Linked DNA regions of Homo sapiens: region 2 is linked to region 1. The links come from fine-mapping of genetic effects on gene expression. A gene starts in region 1. The other region holds a variant in brackets. All regions are shown on one strand. Distances are from middle to middle.

The links.
Region 2: its variant is fine-mapped to the expression of CD300LB in whole blood (TOPMed, PIP above 0.99).

What each region holds. Positions count from the first base shown.
Region 1 is chr17:74,525,949-74,534,885 of GRCh38, forward strand. CD300LB (CD300 molecule like family member b) reads right to left here and starts at 5,527. Exons shown (of 4, transcript NM_174892.4): 1 at 5,363-5,527; 2 at 1-129. The coding sequence starts at 5,402. It overlaps LOC107985074 (a long non-coding RNA gene), which reads left to right. Exons shown (of 3, transcript XR_007065902.1): 2 at 6,599-6,693; 3 at 8,727-8,931. It also overlaps a transcript of CD300C not described here. RefSeq lists an enhancer at 2,577-2,646.
Region 2 is chr17:74,497,781-74,506,717 of GRCh38, forward strand. No RefSeq gene overlaps it. Among named protein-coding and RNA genes, the nearest start is that of CD300LB, 29 kb to the right of the region's middle. The variant A/G (reference allele first, on the strand shown) is at 5,205.

The DNA.
Region 1 (8,937 bases):
TATCCCAGCGCACCCCTCGGCACCACCACTTAATGTAGGTCTCCCATCCTTGCTTATAGTGGCATTGAACCGTCAGGGACCCCTGCTCTGGGGCTCTCACAGACTCTGGGCCTTGGATGGAGAAACAGCCTGGAAAACAGAATCCCAAGATACAGCTCATTGCACCGGCACGAACCCCTGCTCTGGGGCTCTCACGGACTCTGGGCCTTGGATGGAGAAACAGCCTGGAAAACAAAATCCCAAGATACAGCTCCTGTTGCCTGAGCCAGTTTGGTGTTTAAGAGTCCCGAGTGTGTCTCTAGCACACCCGATTCCTCATCCCCATCTCCCTCTCAGTCCATTCCCCCACCAGCTTCTAGACCTGCTTAGCATGTGACACCATGGTCTCCTACCACCTTCTTTCCTTGTCCTCTCAATGCTGTTTTCATCGGAGCCAAATATTTAACAACCAGCCCTCTGGGGGAAAAAATCTCTGGTTTAGGAGCTGGGCACGGTGGCTCACACTTGTAATCCCAGCACTTTGGGAAGCCAAGGTGGGCAGATCACCTGAGGTCAGGAGTTCGAGACCTGCATGGCCAACATGGTGAAACCCAGTCTTTACTAAAAATACAAAAATTAGCTGGGCGTGGTGGCAGTCACCTGTAGTCTCAGCTATGCGGGAGGCTGAAGCATGAAAATTGCTTGAACCCGGGAGGCGGAGGTTGCAGTGAGCTGAGATCGCACCACTGCACTCCAGCCTAGGCAACAGAGTGAGACTCTTGTCTAGAAAAAGAAAAAGAAAAAAAATCTGGTTTTAATATTTGCCAAATTCCATAGTGTAAATACTCCCACGGTGGCAGATGTCAGGTAATCCATGTGATGTCACTGGACACAGAGCTGGGAAAAGATGTCCCAAGCCAGCTCCTGTGAGCCAGCCCCAGCACACTGCGGGGGTACCCAGGGTTCCCTCTCCAGCCTTCATCTTGTCTCACCTGACAAGCCTCCATGGAGGGAGTCTCTCCATTTCCATGGCTTTAATGATTACCTGTTTCCTGATGATTCCCAAATCCATATTTGCAGCTCAGACTCCCCTTAGCTAGCCCACCATTTACAAAGACACACTGGATGTCTCCACCCCAGATTCCTTCGTTGCAGAATTGAATGCACTTCCTCTCCCACCCTGAACTACTCTTCTTCAGTATTTTTTTCTAGTGGAGCAATTGGATGTGGCAAGAGTAACAAAGGCCTGGTGAAAGCTGAACAGGTTAGAGGTGAGCATAATCAAATGGCAGTCCGTGCCTCCGCTGATTGACTCCAGTTAGGCTGTGTGTAGATAGGCTCTTTCCTTGGCAATGACACGGGTTTCTTGATCACGCAGAAGTGGATAAACAGGCAGAGAATCACAGGGGAAGCCTCTCTTGACTGTCTCTTGGCCTCAGAGCTTCAGGCCCAGGCCAGGGGTCTCTGCAGGGTGGAGAAAGCCAGGTCTATTTCTCCAGGCAGATGCCGCCTCCTCACAGCTTGGGCCTTCTCCTTGAAGCTGTGTTAGTTTTCTTGAACTTTGCATTCGTGGTTGGTAGAATAATGTCCCCCATAGCTGTTGGCATCCTCATACACAGAACCTGCGAATATGTCCCCTGACATGGCCAGAGGGACTCTGCCGATGTGATGAAGTTAAGGACCTTGAGACAGGAAGAATATCCCGAATAATCTCCATGGATATTCTAAGTGAAAGAGGGTTGAGGGAGAGTCCAATTGGAAGATGGTCTGTTGCTGCTTTGAAGTGGAAGAAGAGGCCACCGGCCAAGGAAAGCAGATGGCTTCTAGAAGCTGGAAAATGCAGGGAAACAGATTCTCCCCTAGAATAGGGGTTCCCAACCCCAGGACAACAGACTAGTAACAGCCCATGGCCTGTTAGGAACCGGACCTTACAGCAGGAGGTGAGCGGTGGGCAAGCAAGCGAAGCTTCATCTGTATTTACAGCCACTCCCCGTTGTTCAAACTACCACCTGATCTCCGCCTCCCATCAGACCAGCGGCCGCATTAGATTCTCATAGAAGTGAGAACCCTATTGTGAACTTCGTGTGTGAGGGATCTAGATTGCACACACTTTATGAGACTCTAATGCCTGATGATGTGTCACTGTCTCCCATCACCCCCAGATGGGATCATCTAGTTGCAGGTAAACAAGCTTAGGGCTCCCACTGATTCTACATTATGGTGCAGTGTATAATCATTTCATTATATATTATAATATAATAGTAATATAAAGTATACAATAAGTGTAATGCGTTTGAATCATCCCAAACCATCCTCACCCCACTCCTGATGTGGAAAAATTGTCTTCCACAAAACCGGATCCTGGTGCCAAAAAGGTTGGGGACCACTGCTCTAAAGAAACCCAACCCTACTTGCACCTCAATTTTAACCAGTAAGACCACGCCAGGCTCTGGTCTTCAGAAGCATCAATGAGATGATGAAATTGTGCAGTTCTAAGCCATAGAGTTCATGTTAATTTGTTACAGCAGCCACTGGAAATTCACATGGCATTCAATCAGCAGAACCAACTTGATTCTCTTCAAACCAGCAGCTCCACCACCCAGCCTTCAGGAAGAGCTTGGCATCTTCTTTCATGCTGTCCTCTCCTTCAGCCCCCGAGCTGATTGGTAGCCAGTTTAGTCAGCTCTATCCTAGAGATGCTCCTCAGTTTTTTTTTTTCTTCTTTCAGTCTCTGCCATCGCAGGCCACAAGGACAGCATGACATCAGAGAGAGTGTGAGCTTTGATGCAGAAAGACTTGACACTGAACTAGTTGGGAAACCCTGGCAGAGTTGCTTAACCTCTGCAAGTATCGCTTCCTTATTCATAAGACAGTCATGCTACGCTCTACTTTGAAGGTGGTAATAGGACTTGGATGTGTGTAGGCTGGGCAAGGTGGCTCATGCCTGTAATTCCAAAGCTGTGGGAGGCTGAGGCAGGAGGATCGCTTGAGCCCAGGAGTTCCAGACTAACCTGGGCAACATGGTGAAACCCTGTGTCTGCAAATGCAAAAGATTAGCCAGGAGTGGTGGTGCATGCCTGTGGTCCCCACTGCTTGGGGGGCTGAGGTGGGAGGATCGCCTGAGCCTGAGAGTTCAAGGCTGCAGTGAGTTATAATCGCCCACCACTGCACTTCAGCCTGGGTGACAGAGTGAGACACTGTCTTCAAAAAATTATTTATTTTTAAATTTAAAAGAAGACTTGGATGTATGTCCAACGCCAGACATTTGGGGTTTGCTCTGTCAGTGACAGCTCATCAACAGGTCAGAACTTCATCTGTGCCTGGATCATGGCAGTGGCATCTGGAGAGGTCTTCCCAGCCCCAGCAGCATCCTCCCCAACTCTCCTCTCCTGAGGATTATGGCCTTCATAATCTTGTCTTTTGTGTTTCCAACCTCATATCCAACTCGCCACCCCCAAGATGTCCTGCACACTGACAGCTCCCTCAGCTTTCCTCTCCATACTGCTGCCTGAGTTGGGTACTGAGACTGTCTCCTCCTCCTCATCAGCTGCACTTGCCCTGAGCATCTAAAAGTCTTTTCGGGGCCGGGCACGGTGGCTCATGCCTGTATTCCCGCACTTTGGGAGGCCAAGGTGGGTGGATCACCTGAGGTCAGGAGTTCAAGACCAACCTCACCAACATGGTGAAATCCTGTCTCTACTAAAATTACAAAAATTAGCCAGGCATGGTGGCAGGCACCTTAATCCCAGCTTCTTGGGAGACTGAGGCAGAAGAATCACTCGAACCTGGGAGGCGGAGGTTGCAGTGAGCCAAGGTTGCACCACTGCACTCCAACCTGGGTGACAGAGTGAAACTCCGTCTCAAAAACAAAAAACAAAAACAAAAACAAAATACCCAAAAACATAAATTGGATTTGTCAGCAATCACTAACAGCAGAAAAGAGATGCTGCTGCATTGAACAAAGTGTCATCAATCCCAGCTTCAGTCATTCAAACTGTAAATGGCTCACGATGTAATTAGTCCCGTTTAAAAAAATATTTGGGGGTTTCTCTAACCACAGAATATGATGGCTGGAACTATTAATCAGGCTTCTATATGTTGTCAAGAGTTGGTATGAGGAACGATAGAGATGGAAATGACAGGGCAGCCGTCAGCTTGGAGCAGAGCCCCGTTGAACGGGCTGAAGGGTGGAAGTCCAGCCAGGACTGGAGTCGGGTCTCAGAACTCCCCAGCCATGCTCTTTCCTGTTGTCCCTCCGTGGACTGCTCTATCTGTGCCAGATGGTCAGTCCCTAGGCACCAGCAGAAAACTGTGTGGCCCACACACATTGCACACCCTGCGTAAAATTCTAGATTGTCCCCTAATGCCCTCTAGGTGTCCACCAAGGTTTGCCATGGAGAAGATCATCTAGCCCTTCCCACTTTCCACCTGGGTTCTTGAGAAGTTTTTTCTTTGAAAGTCTCAGCTCCTGAGCCTGGCGTGGATGGCCTTCATAATCTTGTCTTTTGTGTTTCCAACCTCATATCCAACTCGCCACCTCCAAGACATCCTGCACACTGACAGCTCCCTCTGCATGAATCCACCATTCTTTCTAAGCCTCCATCTCTCTGCCCAGGTCCCCCAACACACACACACACACACACACACACACACACACACACACACCCAACTCTCTAGAGTGTTCTCCTCTCAGCTCTGCTCCAGAGACTGACCTTCCTTCTACAAGGCACATCAAGTGCACAGCTTCGTGAGTCTTTCTCTAGTCACCAGAGAGAACTGCTTCATCCTCCGCACACGCCTCCACCAATGCCTTATTGTGTCCTGCAATTGCTCATTGTTTATGTGTATGTCTCACCCACTAAGCCATCTGGAGTCTTTTTACTTTATTTTTTTTTTGAGACAAGGTCCCACTGTATCACCCAGGCTGGAGTGCTGTGGTGCGATCATAACTCTGCAGAATTGAATACCTGAGCTCAAAGGATCCTCCAGCTTCAGCCTCCCAAGTAGCTGGGACTACAGGCACGGTCACCACGCCCAGCTAATTTTTGTTCATTTTATATAGAGACGAGGTCTCACCATGTTGCCCAAACTGGTCTTAAACGCCTGGACTCAAGCAATCCTCCCACCTTGGCCTCCCAAAGTGTTAGGATTATAGGTGTGAGCCATGGCCTCAAGCCTGGAGTCTTCTTTAATGGCCAGTTCTCCTCCTCTTTTTTCTTGATGTCCTCAGGCCCCGAAGCACACGATGTCAGTCCCCAGTGCACCTTTGTCGAATGACTTCACAAAGCCACCTCTCATTTCCCTGGATGTGGAAGGACAAATGCCCTCTGCCTCCTGCCCTGCCCCTGTCATACCAAGCGCCCAAGGCCCCAGCCCCACTCACCTGAGAGGCTGAGAAGGAGCAGAGCAGGGGGCAGCCACATGGCTCTGCCTTCCCGGCTCCTCGTCCGCCTGATCTGCAACCAGTGGCAAATGCAGATCCCAGATGCACTCTGGAAGTTCTGCCTGAGCTCTGGCTTGCACCTTCTGCACATCTAGACCGCCTTTGACTTTCTTACTCATTCACTTCCTTTTATAGAGTGGGTAGTTCCTGCTTTTAATTATTAAACGAAAGAGGTGTCATTTTTTGGCAGGGCTGCGCCACAGGGCTTAAGCATCGTCACTATGTAAAAAAGAGGAGGGAGGGGACTGTGCAGGGTCTTTAGGGTAGGGGGAGATACGTCTGCAGAAGGGGTGGGGTGGGGGGCGTCTGGCCTAGCAGGCCTTGGGTCCAAGGGGTATAACACTCTGGGAGTCAATTTCAGAGCTGTTCTATACCACAGTGAACACCCAACTCAGATGTCGGATGGGTCATGCTGGGCACACCTGAACATGCATTTGTTCAGGTGTTATAGCCAAGTGCATAAACATGCAGACTGTTGGGTCAGACAGACCTGGCTCTAACCCCACGAGCACCACCTACAAGCTGCGTGACTGTGGACAATGCAATCAACATCTCTGTGCCTCAGTTATTGTATCTATTAACTGGGCTCATAATGTTTGTTGTTGTTATAGGAGTTATTAAGAAATTATTTTAGGTAGATAGGAAAAGGGGTGCTTGGGAAGATTTTTTTTTCTTTTAAAGCAGCTCCATAAATGTTTCTTGTCTAGAAGAAAAGCCCTGGCTCTTAGAGCTGGGCAGGCAAGCTTTGATATGCAAATACAGGCCATTAGAAACTGCGTCCACCCAAACATGGAGACTCCCGCCTCTTCTTCTTTTCCCCACGTTCCTGGCAACATGGCCGCCCCTACATACACCCATGTGTGTAGAACATCATGGCGCCTGTATTTGCATATTAAAAGGCTAGGGTAGGAAGGCTAGTTTTTTCGTGGGCTACTTGAATGACATACCTGGTCAAACCAATCCCCTGGGCCCTATGCAAATCAGGTACCGCCTCCTCCAGCCTCCTCATATAACTGGCTGTTTTCCACCGTACTCGAGGTTCCCTCTTTCAGCTTGGAGCCCGCCTCCCTCAGTCTCAGAACAGGGGGAGCCTCTTCCTTCCTTCTTTCTTGTCTATTAAATTCTCCACTCCTTAAAACCACTCCACGTGTGCCCATGTTGTTTTATTCAAACCAGTGGGAGACCAAGGACCCTAGTGTTCCTCCAGTCATCAGAGCCATACCATTTTGTTGCATTGGCCGGGAATCCAAGGTACGACACTCATCGGAGTGGTAAGTATGGGAGTGAGCTTAAAATCTCTTCTATCATTCCGAGGCACTCTTAGCCTCTATTTTAAAATAAAATAAGTCAATGGGCATCCGTCAGCCGGGTACATACACTTAGTGTTGGCTGCCATACTGAAGACTCGAATGTGAGGCTTGCTGCTGAGAACACGGAGAACCCCCCAACACCCCTGGGTCATTGGGAATGTTGGCCATGTTTTAAATCAGCTTCTTTTCACGGGAAGACCTCGCCATTGTGCAAGGCTGGGAAAAGTTCTAAGGCAACTAACAATTTCTGGCCAGAGCACACCCTGGCATGATTCAAAGGCCCCTGGACTGGACCCAGCCTCTGGCGGCCCATTCTGGGTGTTGGCAAAGAATCCTCAACTATCTTGTCACAAAACTCTCCTTCCTTCTCTATCTGCGGTCTCTTACACTTTCTTTGTGTGAAATGTGTAGCGAGTTTTACAGCCTAGGAAAGTAATCCTGTTAGGCAAAATCAGGAAGATGCCCTTGCAATCTTCTAGGAACAGAGTTCTCCCCTTTCTCCCACCGTGAGGTTACTCACTACCACGTCTCTAGTGAGCACATAGTATTTCTAAGCCAACAGTGCCACCTAGTAGAAATAGAAATCCTCTACATAAAGCATATTTTTTCATGGCAAACCGCAGCTTCTTTTTGCATGATTAGAAATCAGGCTCGGCCAGGCGCGGTGGCTCATGCCTGTAATCCCAGCACTTTGGGAGGCCGAGGCGGGCAGATCATGAGGTCGGGAGATCGAGACCATCCTGGCTAACACAGTGAAACCCCGTCTCTACTAAAAATACAAAAAAAAATTAGCCAGGCGTGGTGGCGGGCGCCTGTAGTCCCAGCTACTCGGGAGGCTGAGGCAGGAGAATGGCGTGAACCCGGCAGGCAGAGCTTGCAGTGAGCCGAGATCGCGCCACTGCACTCCAGCCTGGGCAACAGAGCAAGACTCGGTCTCAAAAAAAAGAAAAGAAAAGAAAAGGAAAGAGAGAGAGAGAGAGAAAGAAAGAACAAGAAAAGAAAAAAGAAAAAGAAATCAGGCTCTAGGCCTCTTCTTGAAATGGGAAAGTTCTGCCTTTAGCAGTTAGGAGTTAAGAAGTCTTCCATAGCCAAATTTTAGTCTCAATATTGTCCCATTGGCAGGAAAATGGCCATTCGGTTCCTACATTCCTTTAAGGCACCTATTCTGTCTCCGATTAAGATGGTACTTAATTAGTAAGGGGATTTTTAAGTCCAGAAGTTAACCAGAACCATTTTTCTAAGGGTAAATGCTTTAGCACAGGCCATAATAATAGCAAGATATAAAGTTCAATCTAGCACGCCCCCTCCCTTAAAGAGGCTTTGCCCAATTATGTAGTTTTTCTTTTTTTTTCTTTTCTTTTCTTTCCTTTTTTTTTTTTTTTTTTTTTTTTTTGAGATGGAGTCTTGCTCTTGCCACCCAGGCTGGATTGCAGTGGTATGATCTCAGCTCACTGCAACCTCCACCTCCCGGGTTCAAGTGATTCTCCTGCCTCATCCTCCCAAGTTGCTGGAATTACAGGTGCCCGCTACCATGTGTGGCTAATTTTTGTATTTTTAGTGGAGACAGGGTTTCACCATGTTGGCCAGGCTGGTCTTGAACTCCTGACCTCAGGTGATCCACCCACCTTGCCCTCCCAAAGTGCTAGAATTACAGACATAAGTCACCACACCTGGCCCGTAGTTTTTCTTAAAATCGTTGTTTTTTTGTTTTGTTTTTTAGGGAAGCACACAGGTCACACAGGAGGTCAAAAAGAAATAAAAGACTAAGGTGCTTGTGGAAGTGTAAGTGGGCCCAGAAGTCTAGTTTCTCTGGTGCCATGGCTTGGAGGGTCACGCCTGCAGTCATGGCCAGCACATTTAAATGGGTGCCAGGATCCAGGAACCAGGGAAAGAAAATAGTTGGGGGAACGCCCCCTACTGTGTTCTCCATCCTGGATCACATACTGAAAGGAAGGAGACTAAAATAATGCTTTTATTCTCACTTCTCTTTCTAGATGGGTAACAGATCGTCTTCTCTGCACTCCAACCTGGGTGACAGAATGAGGCTTCATCTAAAAAAATTAATATAATGAATCACATTAATAGAATAAAGAAGAAAACCCACATAATCATGTAAACGCACAAAAACCACTATCTGAAATCCATTACTTTTCATGATAAACTAGGAATTAAAAGGTGCCTATAAGCAACCCATTACAACCCATG
Region 2 (8,937 bases), 28 kb before region 1:
AATTTAGAAGCCATTAAAAGTTTTTTTTTAGGCCAGGCGTGGTGGCTCACGCCTATAATCCCAGCACTTTGGGAGTCTGAGGCAGGCAGATCACCTGAGGTCCGGAGTTCGAGACCAGCCTGGCCAACGTGGTGAAACCCTGCCTCTACTAAGAATACAAAAATTAGCCAGGCGTGGTGGCGCATGCCTATAATCCCAGCTACTCAGGAGGCTGAGGCAGGAGAATTGTTTGAACCCAGGAGACGGAGGTTGCAGTGAGCCAAGATCACACCACTGCACTCCAGCCTGGGTGACACACTGGACTCGATCTCAAAAAAAAAAAAAAAATTTTTTTTATATTAACTACAGAAAAAAGATCTATTTGTTGTAAAAAAAAAAGTTAGAAAATACAGACAAAAAGAAGAAAATAACAATGTTCATATATCTACATTTTTTCCTTATAAAATATGGGTTCAAATAACATATACTCTTAAAATTTGTATCATGTTCCTTTTATGGATGTAATGTAATTTATTTAACCATATCTTTACTGTTGGGGATTTAGGATGTTTCTAGTTTCTTGCTATTATAACCAATTATGTGACCATTCTTGCACATAATTATTTCTTTAGGATACACTCTTAGAAATGTCTCGGCCCAGGGGTAGTATATTCGATAGGATTTGGGTGCAATTTATTCTCCTATCAGCCTGGTATGGAAATATCCTTCAGCATATCCCATGGCCAACATTGGGAATGGTGCCTTTAAAAAAATGATTTAAACTTCTGCCAATTACAAATAAATAGTTCTCATTGCTTTTAAATAAATACCATTAATTCTGGCCGGGTTCTGTGGCTCACGTCTGTAATCCTGGCACTTTGAGAGGCCAAGGCAGGCAGATCACTTGAGGCCAGGAGTTTGAGACCAGCCTGGACAACATGGTGAAACCCCGTCTCTACTAAAAATACAAAAAGTTAGCCAGGCATGGTGGTGCATGCCTGTAATCCCAGCTACTCGTGAGGCTGAGGCAGGAGAATCGCTTGAGCCCAGGAGGCGGAGGTTGCAGTGAGCCAAGATCATGCCGCTGCACTCCAGCCTGGGTGACAGAGCGAGACTCCATCTCAAAAACAAACAATCAACAATAACAACAAAAAGAATAACATTAATTCAGAAAAGTGTGTATCGTTCCATATCCAGATGATGTCTCTTAACACACACACAAAAAGAAAAGTAAAAATTATTTAATTAGCCAGGCGCGGTGGCAAGCTCCCATAATCCCAGCTACTGGGGAGGCTGAGGCAGGAGAATTGCTTGCACCTGGGAGGCAGAGGTTGCAGTGAGCCGAGATCGCGCCATTGCACTCCAACCTGGGTGACAGAGCAAGACTCCATCTCAGGACAAAAAAAAAAAAAAATTTTAAACCCATGTGCAATGGACAGAAAATTAAAACAGTACAGGAAGTTATAAAATTAACAAAAAAGTCTCCTTCCTCCTACCCTACCCCTAGTACCATTCCACAAAAGTGACTACTGTTAGCCATTTCTTACACAGCTTTCAGAAAACTTATTATTATTTCAAAATTATTTTCAAAAGGGCTAATCCAGGCGCAGTGGTTCACATTTGTAATCCCAGCACTTTGGGAGGCCGAGGCAGGCGGATCACCTGAGGTCAGGAGTTCAAGACCAGCCTGGCCAACTTGGTGAAACCCTGTCTCTACTAAAAATACAAAATTAGCCAAGTGTGGTGACACACACCTGTAATCCCAGCTACTTGGGAGGCTGAGGAAGGAGAATCGCTTGAGCTCAGGAGGCAGAGGTTGCAGCGAGTCAAGATCGCGCCACTGCACTCCAGCATGGGCGACACAGCAAGACTCCATCTCCAAAAAAAGTGGGGGGAGGGGCTCATAATTCTTCATACCTCACTTTTGCATATGTCCTAGAGACCTTGTTATACAAGTACACACAAATCTACCTCATTCTTTTATATGTGATTCCACAGTTTTAATTCATTCCGTTATTTACTCATTTACTTGATGACTTTTATTGAATACCTACTATATACCATGGAGCTATACAGCAGAGACATAGCAGTGAAGAAGATAAATGAGGCCCCTTCTGTCTGGTCCTTGTATCTTAGTGGGCAGTAGACAGAACAAACAAAACAAAAGCAAGCTTCGTTCAGATCATCACAGAACTGCTGTGTGAAGATCTGAATTGTGTACAGCTGAGAGTGATGAGAGGCAGGAAGGGCTGCTTGCATAGGGAGGTCATGGAGGGACTTCCTGACATTTGAGCTGAGACTTGAGAAGGAGCCAGCCACACAATAATATAGAGTGAGAGCATTCCTGGCAGAGGAAACAGCTCAGGCAAAGGCTCTAAGGGGGAACAAGGCTAGTGTGTCCCAGGCTTAGGGTGCCGGCCAGATGAGTACAGAGTAGACAATGTGGGGAGCTTGGTGGGAGGCAGACGCAGAAAGGCAGAGGCAGGCAGTGGTCAGATCAGGGAAGGGTTAATACGCAAATGTGTGGATTTTGTCCTAAGTGGAAACTCTGAAAAATTTCAAGCAAGGGAGTCACACAATGGCACCTTGGAATGGGGTGGTGGATGTGGCCATTGGAGAAGGTGGACAAGCTCAGAATGCATTCTGGCCGTAGAGCCAACCCAACAGGCTGAAGGATTGGATGTGGGAGGGAGTGAAAAGAAAGGAATAAAAATTGCAGGTGACTTCTACGGTTTTCACTTGAGCAATTGGGAGGGCAGTAAAGGTGGGTCCCTTTACGGAAATGGAAAGACTAAGAGAGCAGCAGTTTTGGGGTGGAATTGGGGAGAGGAAACAGGGACTCTGTTGGGCGTACAGATGCTCAAATAAAGATGACAAGCCCCCTATTGGCTGTATGAGTCAGGCGCTGGGGGAGGGACTGGAGCTGTAGGTGCACAATGCATGCCGATGTATCTGTGTGTCATACAAGGCCCCATGTATGACTGCGTGTGTATACACATGCACAGATGCACACATTGTTATGTCATCCCAGACCATGTTTTTGTATTTTTGTACCTGTATCTTGGTATATATCTGAGTATATCTTTTTTTTTTTTTTTTTTTTTTTTTTTTGAGACAGAGTCTTGCTCTGTTGCCCAGGCTGGAGTGCAGTGGTGTGATCTTGGCTCACTGCAACCTCTGTCTCCCGGGTTCAAGCGATTCTTCTGCCTCAGCCTCCCAAGTAGCTGGGACTACAGGCGTGCACCACCACACCCAGCTAATTTTTGTATTTTTAGTAGAGATGGGGTTTCACCGTGTTGGCCAGGCTGGTCTCGATCTCCTGACCTCGTGATCTGCCCACTTCAGCCTCCCAAAGTGCTGGGATTACAGGCGTGAGCCACCACGCCTGGCCTATCTGAGTATATCTTTAGGAGAAATTTCCAATAGTGGAGCATTAGTCAAAAGGTCCATGAATTGACTTTTTTTTAATAGATCTTGACAAATTTTCCTTCAAAAAGCTCTTGCCCACTGTCATGCCAAGCGTCAGGTTCCAGCCCATGTTGAGGTCTGAGGGGAGTGGGTGGATGGGTGGCGAATAGCGGAAGGAATATTTAGGGGGCTGTAGGCAGGTAAAATATGGTTTTATTCAGCAGCTTTTTCATCAGCAGTTTTTTTTATATACTTTAAGTTCTAGGGTACATGTGTACAATGTGCAGGTTTGTTACATAGGTATATATGTGCCATGTTGGTTTGCTGCACCCATCAGCTCGTCATTTACACTAGGTATTTCTCCTAATGCTATCCCTCCCCCAGCCCCCCACCCCTTGACAGGCCCCGGTGTGTGATGTTCCCCACCCTGTGTCCAAGTGTTCTCATTGTTCGATTCCTACCTATGAGTGAGAACATTCGGTGTTTGGTTTTCTGTCCTTGTGATAGTTTCATCAGAAGCTTTCTCATACAATTCACCTTTATCTCGGCTGCCTGCTCCAGCTTTGCGGCTCTTGCCATTCCCAGGCTTACAGCTGCATTCCCTGGCCTACAAGCCTGGCTCTCCCTTATGGGGTCAGCAGTTTTACTCTCTGCCTCTGGGCACAAGCCATGCCGAACCACATGTACAGCGTCAGCAGGGCAGTTATACCTTTTACAGACAATAGTGGCTCTGAGCCACTTACACAAACAGATTACATAACAAGTGGAGTTATGCGCCTGCGCGCCAGACTCCCTGAGTCACGCTGGCCCTGATGTTTGCCTCTGCCTGTTTTGTTTTTGTTTTTGTTTTTGTTTTTTGAGACGGAGTTTCGCTCTGTCGCCCAGGCTGGAGTGCAATGGTGCAATCTCGGCTTACTGTAACCTCCGCCTCCCAGGTTCAAGCGATTCTCCTGCCTCAGCCTCCCGAGCCACCACACCCAGCTATTTTTTTTTTTTTTTTGTATTTATAGTAGAGATGGGGTTTCACCATGTTGGCCAGGCTGGTCTCAAACACCTGACCTCTGGTGATCCACCCGCCTCAGCCTCCCAAAGTGTTAGGATTGCAGGCGTGAGCCACCGCACCTGGCTAACCTATTCTTGACCAAAGCACATCCATGTACCTTACACCCACTTACCTTCCCATCAAGAACACTCAACGATGTCCCTTTCCCTACACTCTCGCCAGTATTGGATATTTTCACACTCTATTTTCTTTTCAATCTGATAGAAGAAAATAATATCTTATAATTTTCAGAATTTGCATTCCTTTATTTGCCATTTTAGTTTTTTTCCTGTGAACTATCCATTTGCCCATTTTGCCATTGAGCTTTTAATCTATCTTACTGAGTTCCTCCGAGTGCTTTGTAAATTAAGAAAATAAGCTCTCTGTCAAATTGCCTGCAACATTTCCTTCATAGCTTGTCATTTTTTAAAAAACTTTCAAAGGTGTTTTCACCCAGTGATGTTTCATCTTTTTTCTGAGGTCAGATTTCTCAATCATTTGCTTTATAAAGTTTGAGTTTTCCTTAGGATGCTCCATTTCAAGAGTCTAATAAATTCACCCATTATTCTAAAACTTTTGTAAATTTCATTTTATATTTTCAGTTTATTCTAAAACTTGCAGTTTTCAGTTTATTCTAAAACTTTTAAATAGTCTAAGACTTTAGAAAGATTTCAGTTTATTCTAAAACTTGTGTAGTTTCTTCGTATTTAAATCTTTGATCCATTTGAAACTATTTTGGCTTACAGAGTGCGGTATGAACAGAACTTGAGTTTGT[A/G]TAAGACTTAGCCAGCTGTCTCTACATCACTGATTGAGTAACCCCTCGTGTCCCATGCATAGTCCTAGGCGCCACTGTGCTGGATCAGAAGCGAAGGGAGAAGGTTAAGTGACTCACTCAGTATTTGACCACAACACTGCTTAGCTCAAAAGTCCACCTTGCTGCCCCCTTTTAGTTAAAATGAGCCTGTTAGTGAGACCCTTGATTTTTTTAGCTTTTTTTATTTTTAGTTTTTCTGGGTCATAGTAGGTGTATATATTTATGAGGTGCCTCGGGAGCATTCTGGACCATCACAGACGCTTTGGGTAACTCTTACATTGGAGGGTAAGCCCATCCCCTTCTTAATCAATACGGAGGCTACCCACTCCACATTACCTTCTTTTCGAGGGCCTGTTTCCCTTGCCTCCATAACTGTTGTGGCTATTGACGACCAGGCTTCTAAACCTCTTAAAGCTCCCCAACTCTGGTGCCAACTTGGACAACATTCTTTTATGCACTCCTTTTTAGTTATCCCCACCTGCCCAGTTCCCTTATTAGGTGAGGCATTTTAACTAAATTGTCTGCTTCCCTGACTATTCCTGGGCTATAGCCACACCTCATTGCTGCCCTTTTCCCCAGTTTAAATCCTCCTTCGCATCATCCCCTTGTGTCTCCCTACCTTAATCCACAAGTATAGGACACCTCTACTCCCTCCTTGGTGACCGATCATGCACCCCTTACCATTCCATTAAAACCTAATCACCCTTACCCCGCTCAACACCAGTATCCCATCCCACAGCACACTTTAAAAGGATTAAAGCCTGTTATCACTGGCCTGCTACAGCATGGCCTTCTAAAGCCTATAAACTCTCCTTGCAATTCCTCCATTTTACCTGTCCAAAACCCGGAAAAGTCTTACAGGTTAGTTCAGGATCTGCACCTTATCAACCAAATTGTCTTGCCTATCCACACCGTGATGCCAAACCCATATACTCTCCTATCCTCAATACCTCCCTCCACAACCCATTATTCTGTTCTAGATAAATGTAGCTGACCCCATAGATCCTAAATCCTTTCCCCACTCCTCTTTCCATTCCTTAAAAAACTCATCCCAACCCTTTTCATTACACACAGCTGAAGTACAGGACTGTGTGGTCGGAATTCTTACACAAGAGCTGGAACCACGCCCTGTAGTCTTTCTGTCCAAACAACTTGACCTTACTGTTTTAGCCTAGCCCTCATGTCTGCGTGCAGCGGCTGCCACTGCTTTAATATTTTAGAGGCCCTCAAAATCACAAACTATGCTCAACTCACTCCGTACAGTTCTCATAACTTCCAAAATCTATTTTCTTCCTCCCACCTGATGCATATACTTTCTGCCCTCCGGCTCCTTTGGCTATACTCACTCTTTGTTGAGTCTCCCACAGTTACCATTGTTCCTGGCCCAGACTTCAATCCAGCCTCCCACATTATTCTGGATACCACACCTGACCCCCATGACTCTATCTCTCTGATCCACCTGACATTTATTCCATTTCCCCATCTTTCCTTCTTTCCTATTCCTCACCCTGATCACACTTGGTTTATTGATGGCAGTTCCACCAGGCCTAATCACCACTCATCAGCAAAGGCAGGCTATGCTATAGTATCTTCCACATCTATCATTGAGGCTACTGCTCTGCCCTGCTCCACTCCCTCTCAGCAAGGCGAACTCATTGCCTTAACTCAGGCCCTCACTCTTGCAAAGGGACTACGCGTCAATATTTATACTGACTCTAAATATGCCTTCCATATCCTGCACCACCATGCTGTTACATGGGCAGAAAGAAATTTCCTCACTACACAAGAGTCCTCCATTATTAATGTGTCCTTAATAAAACCTCTTCTTAAAGCTGCTTTACTTTCAAAGGAAGCTGGAGTCATTCGCTGCAAGGGCCATCAAAAGGCATCAGATCCCATTGCTCAGGGCAACTCTTATGCTGATAAGGTAGCTAAAGAGGCAGCTAGTTTTCCAACTTCTGTCCCTGATGGCCAGTTTTTCTCCTCATTGGTCACTCCTATTTACTGTCCCACTGAAGTTTCCACCTATCAATCCCTCTCCACTCAAGGCAGATGGTTTTTAGACAAAAAAAAAATCTCCTTCAAGCCTCACTAGCCCATTCTATTCCTGTCGTCATTTCATAACCTCTTCCATGTAGGTTACAAGCCATTAGCCCGCCTCTTAAAAACTCTCATTTCCTTTCCATTGTGAAAATCTATCCCCAATCCACCACTCTTGACTCCCTCTTGGAGTGGGTAGATGATCTTTGCTGACAGGACACACTCCAATACTCTCACCCTTATGAAGTCCTGTTCTTTACTTTTATACTCACTCTTATTCTTGTTCCCGTTCTTATGCCACCCTCTCTACCTCTTCGCAGCTATCTCCACCACACTATCAATCTCACTCACTCTCTCCTAGCTGTTTCTAATCCTTCTTTAACAAACAATTGCTGGCTTTACATTTCTCTTTCCTCCAAAATCAATGAGGCCCCGACTTACTCACTGCTAAAAAAAGGGGGACTCTGTATATTTTTAAATGAACAGTGTTGTTTTTACCTAAATCAGTCTGGCCTGGTATATGACAACATAAAAAAACTCAAGGATAGAGCCCAAAAACTCACTAACCAAGCAAATAATTGCGTTGATCCCCCTTGGACACTGTCTAATTGGATGTCCTGGGTACTCCCAATTCTTAGTTCTTTAATACCTATTTTTCTCCTTCTTTTATTCGGACCTTGTGTCTTCCATTTAGCTTCTCAATTCATACAAAACACATACAGTCCATCACCAATCATTCTGTGCAACAAATCCTACTTCTAACAACCCCACAATATCACCCCTTACCCCAAAATCTTTCTTCAGTTTAATCTCTCCCACTCTAGGTTCCCATGCTGCCCCTAATCCCACTCTAAGCATCCCTGAGAAACATCGCCCATTATCTCTCCATACTACCCCCCAAAATTTTCGCCACCCCAACACTTCACCACTATTTTGTTTTGTTTTTCTTATTAATATAAGAAGACAGGAATGTCAGGCCTCTGAGCCCAAGCTAAGCCATCATGTCCCCTGTGACCTGCACATATACATCCAGATGGCCTGAAGCAACTGAAGATCCACAAAAGAAGTGAAAATAGCCTTAACTGATGACATTCCACCATTGTGATTTGTTCCTGCCCCACCCTAACTGATACGCTATATTCTCCCCTGCCCTTAAGAAGGTACTTTGTAATATTCTCCCCGCCCTTGAGAATGTACTTTTTATGCCTATCCCAAACCTGTAAGAACTAATGATAATCCCACCACCCTTTGCTGACTCATTTTTTGGACTCAGCCTGCCTGCATCCAGATGAAATAAACAACCTTGTTGCTCACACAAAGCCTGTTTGGTGGTCTCTTCACATGGACGTGTGTGACAATCTCATTGAGTTTTGAGTTGCATTTCTCTGATGATCAATGATGTTGAGCACGTTTTCATATACCTGTTTGCCTTTTGTAGATCTTCTTTGAAAGATGTCTATCAGATCTTTTGCCCATTTTTTAATTAGATTATTATATTTTTTCCTACTGTGTTATTTGGGCTCCTTACATATTCTGGTTATTAATCCCTTGTCAAATGGGTGTTTGCAAATATTTTCTCCCATTCTGTGGATTGTTGCTTCATTTTGGTGATTGTTTCTTTTGCTGTACAGAAGCTTTTTAACTTGATGTGATC